Linked DNA regions of Homo sapiens. The gene in region 2 interacts genetically with the main gene of each other region. Each region holds a gene or a part of one and is shown on either strand. Other genes may lie near its edges.

Region 1 (3,500 bases), on a different chromosome or scaffold from region 2:
TCTGTTGATTTGGGATGGAGAGTTCTGTAGAGGTCTATTAGGTCCGCTTGGTGCAGAGGTGAGTTCAATTCCTGGATATGCTTGTTAACTTTCTGTCTTGTTGATCTGTCTAATGTTGACAGTGGGGTGTTAAAGTCTCCCATTTTTATTGCGTGGGAGTCTAAGTGTCTTTGTAGGTCTCCAAGGACTTGCTTTATGAATCTGGGTGCTCCTGTATTGGGTGCATATATGTTTAGGATAGTTAGCTGTTCTTGTTGAATTGATCCCTTTACCATTATGTAATGGCCTTCTTTGTCTCTTTTGATCTTTGTTGTTTAAAGTCTGTTTTATCAGAAACTAGGATTGCAAACCCTGCCTTTTTTTGTTTTCCATTTGCTTGGTAGATCTTCCTCCATCCCTTTATTTTGAGCCTATGTGTGTCTCTGTACATGAGCTGGGTCTCCTGAATACAGCACACTGATGGGTCTTGACAATTTGCCAGTCTGTCTTTTAATTGGAGCATTTAGCCCACTTACATTTAAGGTTAATATTGTTATGTGTGAATTTGATCCTGTCATCATGATGTTAGCTGGTTATTTTGCTCATTAGTTGATGCAGTTTCTTCCTAGCCTCAATGGTCTTTACAATTTGGCATGTTTTTGCAGTGGCTGGTACCAGTTGTTCCTTTCCATGTTTAGTGCTTCCTTCAGGAGCTCTTTTAGGGCAGGCCTGGTGGTGACAAAATCTCTCAGCATTTGCTTGTCTGTCAAGTATTTTATTTCTCCTTCATTTATGAAGCTTAGTTTGGCTGGATATGAAATTCTGGGTTGAAAATTCTTTTCTTTAAGAATGTTGAATATTGGTCCTCACTCTCTTCTGGTTTGTAGAGTTTCTGCTGAGAGATACGCTGATGGGCTTCCCTTTGTGGGTAACCTGACTTTTCTCTCTGGCTGCCCTTAACATTTTTTCCTTCATTTCAACTTTGGTGAATCTGACAATTACATGTCTTGGAGTTGCTCCTCTTGAGGAGTATCTTTGTGGCGTTCTCTGTATTTCCTGAATTTGAATGTTGGCCTGCCTTGCTACGTTGGGGAACTTCTCCTGGATAATATCCTGCAGAGTGTTTTCCAACTTGGTTCCATTCTCCCTGTCACTTTCAGGTACACCAATCAGACATAGATTTGGTATTTGCACATAGTCCCATATTTCTTGGAGCCTTTGTTCGTTCTTTTTACTCTTTTTTCTCTAAACTTCTCTTCTCACTTAATTTCATACATTTGATCTTCCATCACTGATACCCTTTCTTCCAGTTGATCAAATCGGCTACTGAAGCTTGTGCATCATCACGTAGTTCTTGTGCCATGGTTTTCAGCTCCAACAGGTCATTTAAGGACTTCTCTACATTGGTTATTCTAGTTAGCCATTCAGCTAATCTTTTTTCAAGGTTTTTAGCTTCTTTGCAATGGGTTTGAACTTCGTCCTTTAGCTCGGAGAAGTTTGATCATCTGAAGACTTCTTCTCTCAACTTGTGAAAGTCATTCTCCATCCAGCTTTGTTCCTTTGCTGGCGAGGAGCTGCGTTTCTTTGCAGGGGGAGAGGTGCTCTGATTTTTAGACTTTTCAGCTTTTCTGCTCTGTTTTTTCCCCATCTTTGTGGTTTTATCTACCTTTGGTCTTTGATGATGGAGTCGGACAGATGGGGTTTTGTTGTGGATGTCCTTTCTGTTTGTCAGTTTTCCTTCTAACAGTCAGGACCCTCAGCTGCAGGTCTGTTGGATTTTGATGGAGGTCCGCTCCAGACCCTGTTTGCCTGGGCATCAGCAGCAGAGGTGGCAGAACAGCGAATATTGCTGAACAGCAAATGTTGCTGCCTGATCATTCATTCCTCTGGAAGCTTTTTCTCAGCGGGGTACTGGGCCATGTGAGGTGTCAGTCTGCCCCTACTGGAGGGTGCCTCCCAGTTAGGCTACTCGGGGGTCAGGGACCCACTTGAGGGGGCAATCTGTCTGTTCTCAAACTCTGTGCTGGGAGAACCACTACTCACTTCAAAGCTGTCCGACAGGGACATTTAAGTCTGCAGAGGTTTCAGGCTATGCCCTGCCCTCCGAGGTGGAGTCTACAGAGGCACACAGGCCTCCTTGAGCTGCGGTGGGCTCCACCCAGTTCGAGCTTCCTGGCCTCTTTGTTTACTTACTCAAGCTTCATCAATGGCGGGCGCCCCTCCCCCAGCCTCACTGCCACCTTGCAGATCTCAGACTGCTGTGCTAGCAATGAGCAAGGCTCCGTGGGTGTGGCACCCTCTGAGCCAGGTCAGAGATATAATCTCCTGGTGTGCTGTTTGCTAAGACCATTGGAAAAGCACAGTATTAGGGTGGGAGGGACCCAATTTTCCAGGTGCTGTCTGTCACCGCTTCCCTTGGCTAGGAAAGGGAATTCCCTGACTCCTTGCGCTTCTTTGGCTCACACACAGTGGGCTGCACCCACTGTCCTGCCCCCACGGTCTGACAAGCCCCAGTGAAATGAACTTGGTACCTCGTTGGAAATGCAGAAATCACCTGTCTTCTGCGTCGCTCACGCTGGGAGCTGTAGACTGGAGCTGTTCCTAATTGGTCATCTTGGAACCACTCCCTTAATTTTAAGTTCCTTGAGGGTTCTTACGCAGCTTTTTTATCTCTAGTATTTAGATCAGAACCTTAATTAGTATTTATTAAAAGTTTCCATATTATTCCAAAATCTTCATAAACATTTAAAGTATCTCCATAGTACTTCAGAAAGTAGGCATAAAAATTTACTTAATCATTCTTCCATTATTATTAGATATTTAGGGTGTTTTGAAATTTTTGATATGCTAGTGAAAGGTTATTTCTGTTTAAACCTTTGTTTAAAATTAAAATTATGTCCTTAGTATACCTTCCCAGGAGTAAACTCAGTACTTAAAAGGAAACATTTAAAGTTCTTGATATGCATTGAGAAATAACTTTCATGGGGTTATACTGCCACCAGCCATACACTTGAGCCTGCAGGTCTTGTTGCACCTCAACAGTATCATGTAGTTGGCTTTTCATCCTTGTTAACCTGATAAAGGAATAAAAGTGACATCTTGGCCAGGTGCGTTGGCTCACACCTGTAATCCCAGCACTTTGGGAGGCTGAGGCAGGCAGATCACGAGGTCAGGAGTTCGAGACCAGCCTGGCCAAAATGGTGAAACCCTGTCTCTACTAAAAATACAAAAATTAGCTGGGCGTGGTGGTGGGTGCCTGTAATCCCAGCTACTTGGGAGGCTGAGGCAAGAGAATCACTTGAACCCAGGAGGCAGAGGCTGCAGTGAGCCGAGATTGCGCCACTGCACTCCAGCCTGGGTGACAGAGCAACAATCCGTCTCGGTGGTGGCGGGCAGTGGGGGAGTGACAGCTTGCTTTAGTCTGCATTTCTTTACTTTCTGATAAAGATCAAAGATTATCATTATGATTATTCTGGCAAATCAGTTGTTTTTCCTCTCATAAATTCTCTGTTGATCTACTC
Region 2 (3,500 bases):
TAATCCAAGACTGCAAAAGCAATTGGCTGTTGCAAGAAAAAAATATATATTTTATATATATATTATATATATATAATGACAAATTGGTTTCCTGAACATTGAAAGGAAAATAGTTGTTTTCTTTATCAAATAAAACTTTATAAATAGTATGTCACTGTTGGAAAGAAAATGTATTGTGGTATTTAGGAATTAAGTCCGTCTAAGTAGATATGGTATAAGAGCTGGATTCTGGTTTTCTCTGGCTTAAACTTCTCTAAAATAAATGAATAATCAGCCCTACACAGGAAGGACATTTTAAGATAAATAATAACAAATGATCTGATTTTATTATAAAATTATAGATACATTGAGAATTCAGTGAGAGTGTAATATCAGCACTTATCAAAAACTTACCTGAGAAATTAAATGTAAATTGTATTTACCTGAGAAACAGGTATAGAAAGCTCTTGCATGACATTCTTTATATAGTTGGCCCTCTGTATCTGTAGGTTCTGCATCCATGGATTCAACCAACCGCAGATAGAAAATATTTGGGGAAAAAATTGCTTTCTGTAGCGAACATGTTCAGACTTTGTTTTCCTATCATTAGTCCCTGAATAATGTAACAACTATTTATATAGCATTTACATTGTATTAGGTATTATAAGTAATCTAGAGATGATATGAAGTATATGGGAGGATGTGTGTAGGTTATATGGCAACACATTTTATATCAAGGACTTGAGCATTCGCAGATTTTGGTATCCTTGGGAGGTCCTGAACCAAGCCCCCACAAGATACCAAGGGACAACTGATTGCATTGAAGCTTTGGTTGGGCTTGAACAGTTTTAAAAACAACCAAAACATTACATTGCTATTACTTCTGCTGCTTATATTAATATTTTAAAAAGGAATGGCCTCGTATATCAAGGGTCATGTAAGTATTTTACCTTGTTAATAGCTCTTTTGGAAACTTATCCAAAGTAAGAATACAAAAGAAAGAAGTTATAAGCACAAAGCTTCCCCTGCCCAGATTTGTTTTAAAATAACAAAAAGTTTGACGCAACCTAAATGTCTAACAAGAAGGGAAAAGCATAGCTTCTAAATGAAAACTAATTTGATCATTTAAAATGTTCATTACAAAGATTATATAGAATCATGGGGAAATTCTTAAGATATAATGAGAGCAGGATGTAAAATTATATGTTAAAATGTATGTGTGATAGGGAAAAGTAGAAGGGAAAATTCAAAAATAAAAAATAGTAATTTGGTTAGAATAGTGATTCCATGAATGATTTTTTTTTCCCTTACATCTCAACCATATTGTGTTTGTTGTATGTGTGGTTTTGTAATGAAATAGACCATGTCAAGTCCTATTTAGGAAACTAGACCAATTTTGGCTGGTATTGGATTGGCCCTATAGGTACGATATCAGGTCTCACAACTTTTGGAAATGAGATAGGCCAGAAAACCCCATTTACCCTCACGCAAATAGTTAAGATTTAAAAATCGTTAAAATCTGTTGATTTAAGAGCTTCTCTTTCTGCTTATTAGTTTGTTATATTGGGATTATGAGAATACATTCTTGATTACTGCATGTCACATTTATGAGTGTTTTATATCCCAGAGTGGCTTGGGCTTTTTTTCTTTCTTTTTTTGTTTTAAAATTCTTAGACATTCGCTTCACAATGAGATTATATTAAAAGCCATGTAGAACCTTTGGATATAAGGATAAAGTAATGTTTAATTTTTTTTTTTTTTTTTTTTTTTTTTTACAGGAAAGAGCTGATCCTCTCTGGCACTTTAAATCCAATTAAGGATTTACATCTGGGAAAACTCGCCTTAACCAAGTTTCCAAAGAGTCCAGAAACATGGATTCACAGGTGTGGTTAATTTACAACATAGTACTCTTACTTAGGATTCAGACTGGCTGGAGAAAGAAACATGACATGTGAGAGGCAAGGTTACTTATTGGTTCCAGAGCATGAATTCTGAAGTCAGGTTACCTACATTTAAATCTAGGAGCTATATAACTTGCTACCTAAGTGTTCATGGGAAATTACTTAACTCACCAAGCCTCAGTTTTCTCATTTGTAAAATGAGAATAATAATTACACCTGTCTCATATAGTTAACAGTCAAGTTTACGTGAGTTAATGCATGTAACACTCCCACAGTGCCTGGCACATATTAAATACTCAATAAATGTTAGCTATTATTAACTCTTTGAAGCAGTTGTGGGCATTGCATTTATAGATACTCAACTGTAATGAGCAATATGGATTTTAAAAGCATTTGGTTGTTTTCCTGGTAAAGATGTTGGTGGTGATGGTTGTGGTTATTAAAATTAACTTACAGAGAAAGCTGAGGGCAGCTGAAGCGAATGCTGTGTAGGCTGAGCTAAAGTTGCTAAAATCCATACATACAAAGAACATTTTTAGGTTAAAAGCATGGGACAGATAGCCAGAATGCACTTTAGGACTCTCAAAATCCTGGCCACCTGGAACCATCTTCCTCTTGGACCCTGTGTAACTACTCTTATTTGACCAAAATGGGATGGTGTGGGCTTGCTAGTCAGGACCAATGAAGAAGTCACTCTGAAATTCTCAGTTTATTAAGCCACTCTAATTTTTCTTAAATCGTGGGCATTTTTAGGATCTTATGTCCGTTCCAGGTGTCTTAGTGGTAATCGTGCCTTTAGTTAACATTGCAGGTCAGCTTCTTCCAAACCACATAGTCAGTTATATTTTCTTCATCACCAGAAATTGAGATAGTATACCACAGAAGGGTATATGACTGTGTGTATGGGGGTTTGGAAAGGGATGGTGGCAGGGGAAAGGAACTGTTAAATATGCATCCATCAGTTTGGCTTGTCTAATTTTTTTTATCAAGCAATATTTTGTTGTTAAATAAGAAATTCCATTATTTTAAAATGACAAAGTGAGTTTTCTTACTTAATTTCCTGTACCTTTGGGTTTGAAATCTTTAGTCTAAAAAATGCTTTTATATAAGTAAATTACTGGTACAAAGTAAACACATTAAGTAGCTCGAAACACTATTTAGTGTTTTTTATGTAAATACATGTTAATGCAAATCTTAAACAGACAAAGGGAGAATTTGTGGATAAGGATATTTTGACACCTTCTTAATGGTTTAATGAATTATATTTGTTACCTTCCAGATTTTATGCTATAATACAGAATTTTGCTGAATGAAAGCTATCAGAATGCAGCTTCTTGTTTGCAAACAAATGCACATAGGGTGAGGCATGCATATATACTTAAAGATGTGAATCATGACTCCTTATAATATTTATCAGCCATTAATTTATGACCTCTCACCACGACCACACACACACACACCAATTGCCTTTACATTTCCTGGCCAAGTGGAGTTTTGGGATTGTCATTTTAGAAGTAATGACATTCTCTGTATTACAGATTTTAAAGTTTTTTTTTTTTCCTGTTTATCCATTTTCCACCCTTCATCCATACTGCTAAATTAGTATCATCATAAACAACA
Region 3 (2,889 bases), on a different chromosome or scaffold from region 2:
TTGTGCCATCCTTTTCTGCTGTAATCACACTGAAGACCAACGTTGTAAAATCAGCAAGCTTTTGTGTTTTTTTTTTCCCCTGTGGAAATATCTGTTTCTATCTAACTATCTAAAAGGGGTTTATACATGGACAATTGCTTACCTGACGTTATGTATCTGTTTTGAGGCAGTGTGAATTAGTAGCACTTCCTTAGTTACCCAATAGCTTTCCCTATTCCAAACAGGATTCAGAAGTCCTACTGTGTGACCATGTGAATGTCACTTAACCTGTGTGCCACATTTATAAAATAACAAGGATGAAATCTGTCTTAATTCTTTCACAGGGTTATGAAAAATAATATATGTGTGTATATGTATATATTTTATTGTAAGCTATTGAAAGATTGTATATATTACTGTAAAATAGCATAGTACATAGAAAGCATAGGGTAGGACTTAGAATCTGAAAACTTGGGTTAAGTTCTAGTTCTGTCACTTACTAGCTGTTGTAACTTTGGGCAAATCACTTACTCCCCCTCAGCTTAGGTTTTTTAGATTTGAAAATAGGGATGATGATAAAAGTTTCCTTAATAGGATTTTTTGAAGAGTTATGTAGATAAAGATATGGGGAAGAGATTTTATAAAATTTAAAGCACTGATCATTTAGTTACGTATTAATATCAATTCTTTAGTGTTCTAGGGTTTTTAGGAATAAAATTTTATTTCCTGTTAAAGGAATTTCAGGCTCAAATTTCAAACTTATAAGAACAAATGGAAAATGAAAAAAATGTATGTTGGGGTCAGAAGTTGGCCCTGCCATTTAAGAAGAAGTACAGTGAATCAATTTTGCAAAGAGCTATGTGAAAGCTTCATTCTGTTGAATCTGTTAGGCTGAATTTAAGAGTTTTATGCAAGAATGATAGTCTTATTATCTGATTCTTCTTTTTCTTTTTAAAGAATTATTTGTTTTCAAAAATTTCAAAGCCATGGAACACTTAAAGGACAATAATGAACACTGAATAGCTTTTACCTAGATTTATCAACTGTTAAAATTTTGCCACATACTCTCTGCCACTTTTGCTCCTTCTCCCTCCCACCCCCATACCTCCCTTTTGACAAACAACCAAAAAAGTAGGCTGCAGTCATAAAATTTAACCCTTAAATACTTTGGCATGTGTCTCTAAAAACAAGGACATTTTTATACAACCGTAATACCTGAACCCCACCTAAGAAAATCAACATTAATAGCGTTATACCAACATAGAGTCAGATATTTTCAGCAAGAACATCACATGTGGTGACGCTGTGTATATCTCTCACTTGATGTCAGATGATACAAATGGTACATACATAAGAGACCTGCTCCTGAAAAGATAATAGCATATTAGAAACTTAGGAGACTCTTGGTAGAGATGTATACTGGGTACCTTAAAGAGGCTGTTCAAAAAAAGCTAATAATATTTTTAAGGCCTAACCCTGCTCATACCCTTTTACTTTTATTCCCATAACTAAATCTGGGTTGGTTAGTTGGGTTTTTGTAGACCAGTAGTTCTGAAGCACCCAAGCTAACTCGTTAGCTGTTACTTTTCTTTCTTAATATAGCTATTTGGAAGTCAGTCTGACCTTAGAGAATCCTCACTGTCACATGCTAACAGAAACTCATTCTTTATAAGTCAATTCATGTCTTTGAAATATCCCTGAAGATTAACCTCTACCCTGTAGCCAAGGACATAAACTACCTGCTTAAAAGTTTTTGTTTCTGAAATTGCTCTAAAAATGTAGCTTTTGACTTTTTTTGAGGTGAAATTCACATAACATAAAATTAACTATTTTAAAGTGAACAATTCAGTGGCACTTAGTGTCTTCACAGTGATGCGTAACCGCCACCTCTATCTAGTTCCAAACATTTTCACTACTCCAAAAGAAAATCCTGTACCCATTAGGCAGCTGCTTCCTATTTCTCCCTCTCCCCAGCCCTGTACTTTGATTTTATTTTGAGATGGAGTATCACTCTGTCACACAGGCTGGAGCGCAGTGGCGTGATCTCAGCTCACTGCAACCTCCACCTCCCAGGTTCAAGCAATTCTCCTGCCTCAGCCTCCCAAGTAGCTGGGATTACAGGCACGTGCCACCACGCCTGGCTACTTTTTGTATTTTTAGTAGAGACGGTTTTACCATGTTGGCCAGGCTGGTCTTAAACTCCTGACCTCAGGTGATCTGCCTGCCTCGGCCTCCCAAAGTGCTGGGATTATAGGTATGAGCCACTGCACCCGGCCCAGCTCTGTACTTTTTAATGTGATTTTTTTTCCTCTAAGATATTTTAAAAATAGACACATACAGAGAATAATAAATTATTTATATTTCTACTACCCAGAATTGATCAACATTTGTCATTTTCTCTTGAAAAAAATATTTATTGTATTTTTAAAATGGTATTCAAAAAATTGCATTCCAGATGAAGCTAAGTACACCTTTACACCCCATCTGCAGTCCGATTCCCTTTTTCTCCCAGCCTTTAGGTAACATTTCCAGTGAATTTAGTCTACATTCTTTTAGTCTTATTTATTGTACCTAGATTTATGAAAAATATGTAGTGCTGTTTTGTAAATTTACTTATATGGTATATTGCATATATGCAGCTTGCTTTCTACTAGGCATTTTTACTGATTTATCTATGTTGATATATGTTTAGTAGTCTGTTTTTGACTGCTGTACAGTATTCCATCAAACAACCTTTTTTTTTTTTTTGGAGACAGGGTCTCATGGTCACACAGGCTGGAGGGCAGTGGTGTGATCATGGCTCACTGCAGCCTCAACCTCCGTGGCTCAAGCAATCCTCCCACTGCAGACTCCCCAATAACTGCGACTACAGGTGTGTGGCACCACACCCAGCTAATTTTTTTAATTTTT
Region 4 (3,500 bases), on a different chromosome or scaffold from region 2:
ATAAACACACATACATACACACATAATGATTCTTATTAAGCAAAATGATAAGTGCTATGTCAAACTTATGACCTCAGTGTCGAGAGAGTTGGAGAAGCTTCCTTGGGATGGTCTTGAGGATGAACAGTAACCAGGTTAATTTCTCTCATAACATATTAAAGACATGGATTGCATACTGCATGTCCTAGAAGGAAACCTTATATGGCTGGGAAACTATAAAATGAAGAATCATAAATAAATATAAAGATAAAAATGTAAGGAAGAAAAAGGATTCTTGCCAACAATGCAAAACAGAACAGCTGTGAGCCAGTGTGCCCAACTCAAAAGACAGTAGGTGATAGGCTGTTCTTTGGAACCTGTTTCATTTATTCACTGGGTAGGAATTTCTGTTTTCTTTCCATATGTGTCACTTACTTTACACTGAGCACAAAGGAAAAATGTGATTATCACTGTATCTTTGATATAATTCCATTCAAATACCTCTCTCTATATAATGGTTTTTTACATACTGAAATTATATATTTTTCACGAAGTGTTTTTGTCAATTTCTCAACTACTCTAGTGGAATCACTGTCTTCAAAGACAACCTTTGCCTTAGCACTTGAGCAGGACCAAATGTTAAAACAAATAAATGGCTAGGAAAAAGTTACGATATGAGAAAATATGACCTCGAATGGCTGGAAAATGTATGATTATGCAAAAGATTTCTATGCCGCAGGACAATTTCAAAATGTTTAATGTTTAAAATAAAATTTTTTTATCCATAAAGGACCTCTAGGATATTGTAAATCATTTTCTTCTTCCAGAATTCCATTAAACAATAAAGGCCATGTTTTAAAGGGCAAGAGTGTTGTGGTAAGAGGAGGTGACTCTGCCATTAGCAGCGGATACAAAAGTGGCATGTGCAACTGCTTCTCTCCAGCCCCCGTTTGGAGAGAATGAGCGGTCAGCTGCAGGCACGGTGAACTAATTACATAGCTGTTCCTTCCCTACCACAGACATTTGGTTAACCACAGGACTTCTTTGGATACTCCTAGGGTACTCCTGCCCTGACATTGTTCAGGAGAAGAAAAGGCAATAGGAATTAGAACAAAAATTAGAATTTTGATTGTCTTGTTTTCTTTTCTAAATTAATATTTTTAGGCACAAAGTGAAATAGATATAAATGTATGCTTAAAGGGCACCAGAAGACCTATAAATAGAAATTGCTAGAAGTACCACTAAATAATTTAATACCAACTTCAATAGCCACTCTTTCCTTCAGCTAAGAAAATAAACTGAGGGGTGGAGGGGGAGTATGTGCTTCAGAGGACACTGTGGGCAAGATCCCAGTGAGATTCAGAATCAGCAGAACCCCAGTGTCGTGGACAGGCTTAGTGATTTCAGAACTGCTGTGTGATCAGTGTAGGCACTGAGACCATGTGGTCACAGTGGGGAATTAATTACCTGTAGGAAACCACCTCGTGCCCATGACCTGGATTCCTAAGGGGGCTGGATGTCAGGTACTTCCCTCACCATGATCCCTCCAGATGGCACCCTGCAACTACTTTCTCTTTCCTGCACTGGTGCCAGTGAGGAGAAGTTAGGATTCTTAAAGAAATCCTGAAAATACGTCATTATCTCTCTTTGCAATTGGACTTTACGGCAAATAACTAGTATTCCCAAACCTGGTCTATAGGTCCCTTCTTGAGCTCTTTTTGTTATTTATGCTAGAATGGCAGGCACTTTTATCACAAGAACAGTTTTTAAACCCATGGAGTATTTGTGTATTTTTGATTTCAGTGACCTCAATGGCTTTAATTTTGAATATGAATTGATAGAACTTTCAGTAATAAGGCAGTTGAAAAGCCCTCTAGTCCCCAGTTGATGCCTGTCATGAATATAAATGTTAGAGTAATGCTATTTAAATGTTTTGACTGACCCTCGAAAAACACTTTCAACCAAATGTGATGCTAAAAGCTGAGGTACAACAAATAATTGCAATTGTGGCAAGAAACCAAACCAAACGAAATAAAACCTTGAAATTTTAATTTTAATTTAAAAAGTGGGTGGGGGAGACCATGACATAACAGTAGAACAATATTTGCCAAAGATAATGATCACAGATATGATTAATTATGATAGTGCCTCCGCCTGTCTTTTCTGTACCCATGATCCACAGGACTGGAGCCATCCCCAAGGTGAGTGTCAGGATGTTTTGAAACTGGGACACACTGTACAGGGGTGAACAAAGGAATCTGCTTTTCAATACCACACTGCCTGCTGCAACCAAATGTCACTGCAGGGCTTAACAGTGAGTAAATGCTGTGTGTGTAAATGCTTCTTCTATGTTTAAAAAACAGGAAACAAGAGGCCTTTGAGCATAAGTTAGTAATAATGACTGATGAGTTTAATTTACCTTAAGGGAAGGGACCCAGAAAAGTTTGGCTTATTAGACAACATGTCTTAAGAAAAAAGGATGCCAAATAACATTTTGAATAATGCAGTTTTTTGAAAGGTGGAAGCTCACCCCTGCCTCTGGATGCTATGCATTTTGAGCAGGTGTTAGCGGCAGTAGCAAGGGTTAAAGGACAATACTTTCCATCTTTCAGGACCCATAAGGGAACATATTAAAATAAAAAACAAAAACAAGCCTCTCTCCTACAGCACTCTCGTTTTGGCCATCTCCTGCTCGGCTGCCACTCTAATTGGACTTGAAGTGCTGCCTCCAGGAAAGTGACTCAAGAACCAGCTGGAGCAGAATGCAAATAAGCTGGTAGGGGAGAGAGCCCAGGGAAAGAAGATGAAACAAAAAGAAAAACAAAATTAAGGAGGAAAGGGGAAGAGGAGAACAGAGACCATCTGAGTATAGTTCACACTTTTTTTTTTTAAACAAATAAGAGGAGGTTCTAGTACATCATCAGGTTTTTAATAAGCAATCTGGAACCCCAGTAAGGGACAAATAAGACACTATTTACAAATAACTTTCTTTAAGCCAAGTGTACCTGTAAAACAAAGTTAAATGTACAGGTGCCTAAGAATGAAGTTCATAAAATGTAAAAGGTAAAAAGAGCCATATTAATGGTAACGTTTAATCTCTGTTTTTATGCTGTGGCTACTACAAGCATATTTTCCAAATGAAGGCTCATTTCTATGGTCTAATGGTCCCAGGAATATTATTTGGAGATGAAAATGACTAACTGCTGCATCAGTCAATTTGCAATGAAACAGGCTCTTGAAAGTTTAGGTTTGTGTTACCTGTTCCTTTTTTGAAAGTGTGTCAAGTCTGAGGGAGCACCTGACAACCACTGACTTGATACAAGCAGTCTGTCCAGGTCCTTTCCTCCATGTAGAAATAATGAAGCAAGACACACTCCCGGATACACACAAGAATAAATATTGACATTAACATTTATCTTTATAAGTGGGGAGGATCTGGCAAATTGCTATGAAGAATTCATTTCAGTAACTATTTGGACTAGTAAAGCTAACAGCTTTGAAAGGCTTAAAAATGATTTTAC

The links. A genetic interaction does not mean that the proteins touch.
Region 1: changes in PTAR1 (region 2) and RABL3 are lethal when combined (synthetic lethality), as found in Homo sapiens cells (one study listed by BioGRID).
Region 3: changes in PTAR1 (region 2) and VPS54 are lethal when combined (synthetic lethality), as found in Homo sapiens cells (one study listed by BioGRID).
Region 4: changes in PTAR1 (region 2) and COG5 are lethal when combined (synthetic lethality), as found in Homo sapiens cells (one study listed by BioGRID).

The regions. Positions count from the first base shown.
Region 1 is NC_000003.12:120,736,017-120,739,516, forward strand, and holds part of RABL3 (rab-like protein 3), read right to left. Parts: intron 2,652-3,500; exon of another isoform or gene 2,511-2,651; intron 1-2,510. UniProt on the Homo sapiens protein: Required for KRAS signaling regulation and modulation of cell proliferation. Regulator of KRAS prenylation, and probably prenylation of other small GTPases. Required for lymphocyte development and function. Not required for myeloid cell development.
Region 2 is NC_000009.12:69,732,512-69,736,011, reverse strand, and holds part of PTAR1 (protein prenyltransferase alpha subunit repeat-containing protein 1), read left to right. Parts: intron 1-1,757; coding exon 1,758-1,862; intron 1,863-3,500.
Region 3 is NC_000002.12:63,894,540-63,897,428, reverse strand, and holds part of VPS54 (vacuolar protein sorting-associated protein 54), read left to right. Parts: intron 1-2,889. UniProt on the Homo sapiens protein: Acts as a component of the GARP complex that is involved in retrograde transport from early and late endosomes to the trans-Golgi network (TGN).
Region 4 is NC_000007.14:107,231,921-107,235,420, forward strand, and holds part of COG5 (conserved oligomeric Golgi complex subunit 5), read right to left. Parts: intron 2,293-3,500; exon of another isoform or gene 2,162-2,292; intron 1-2,161.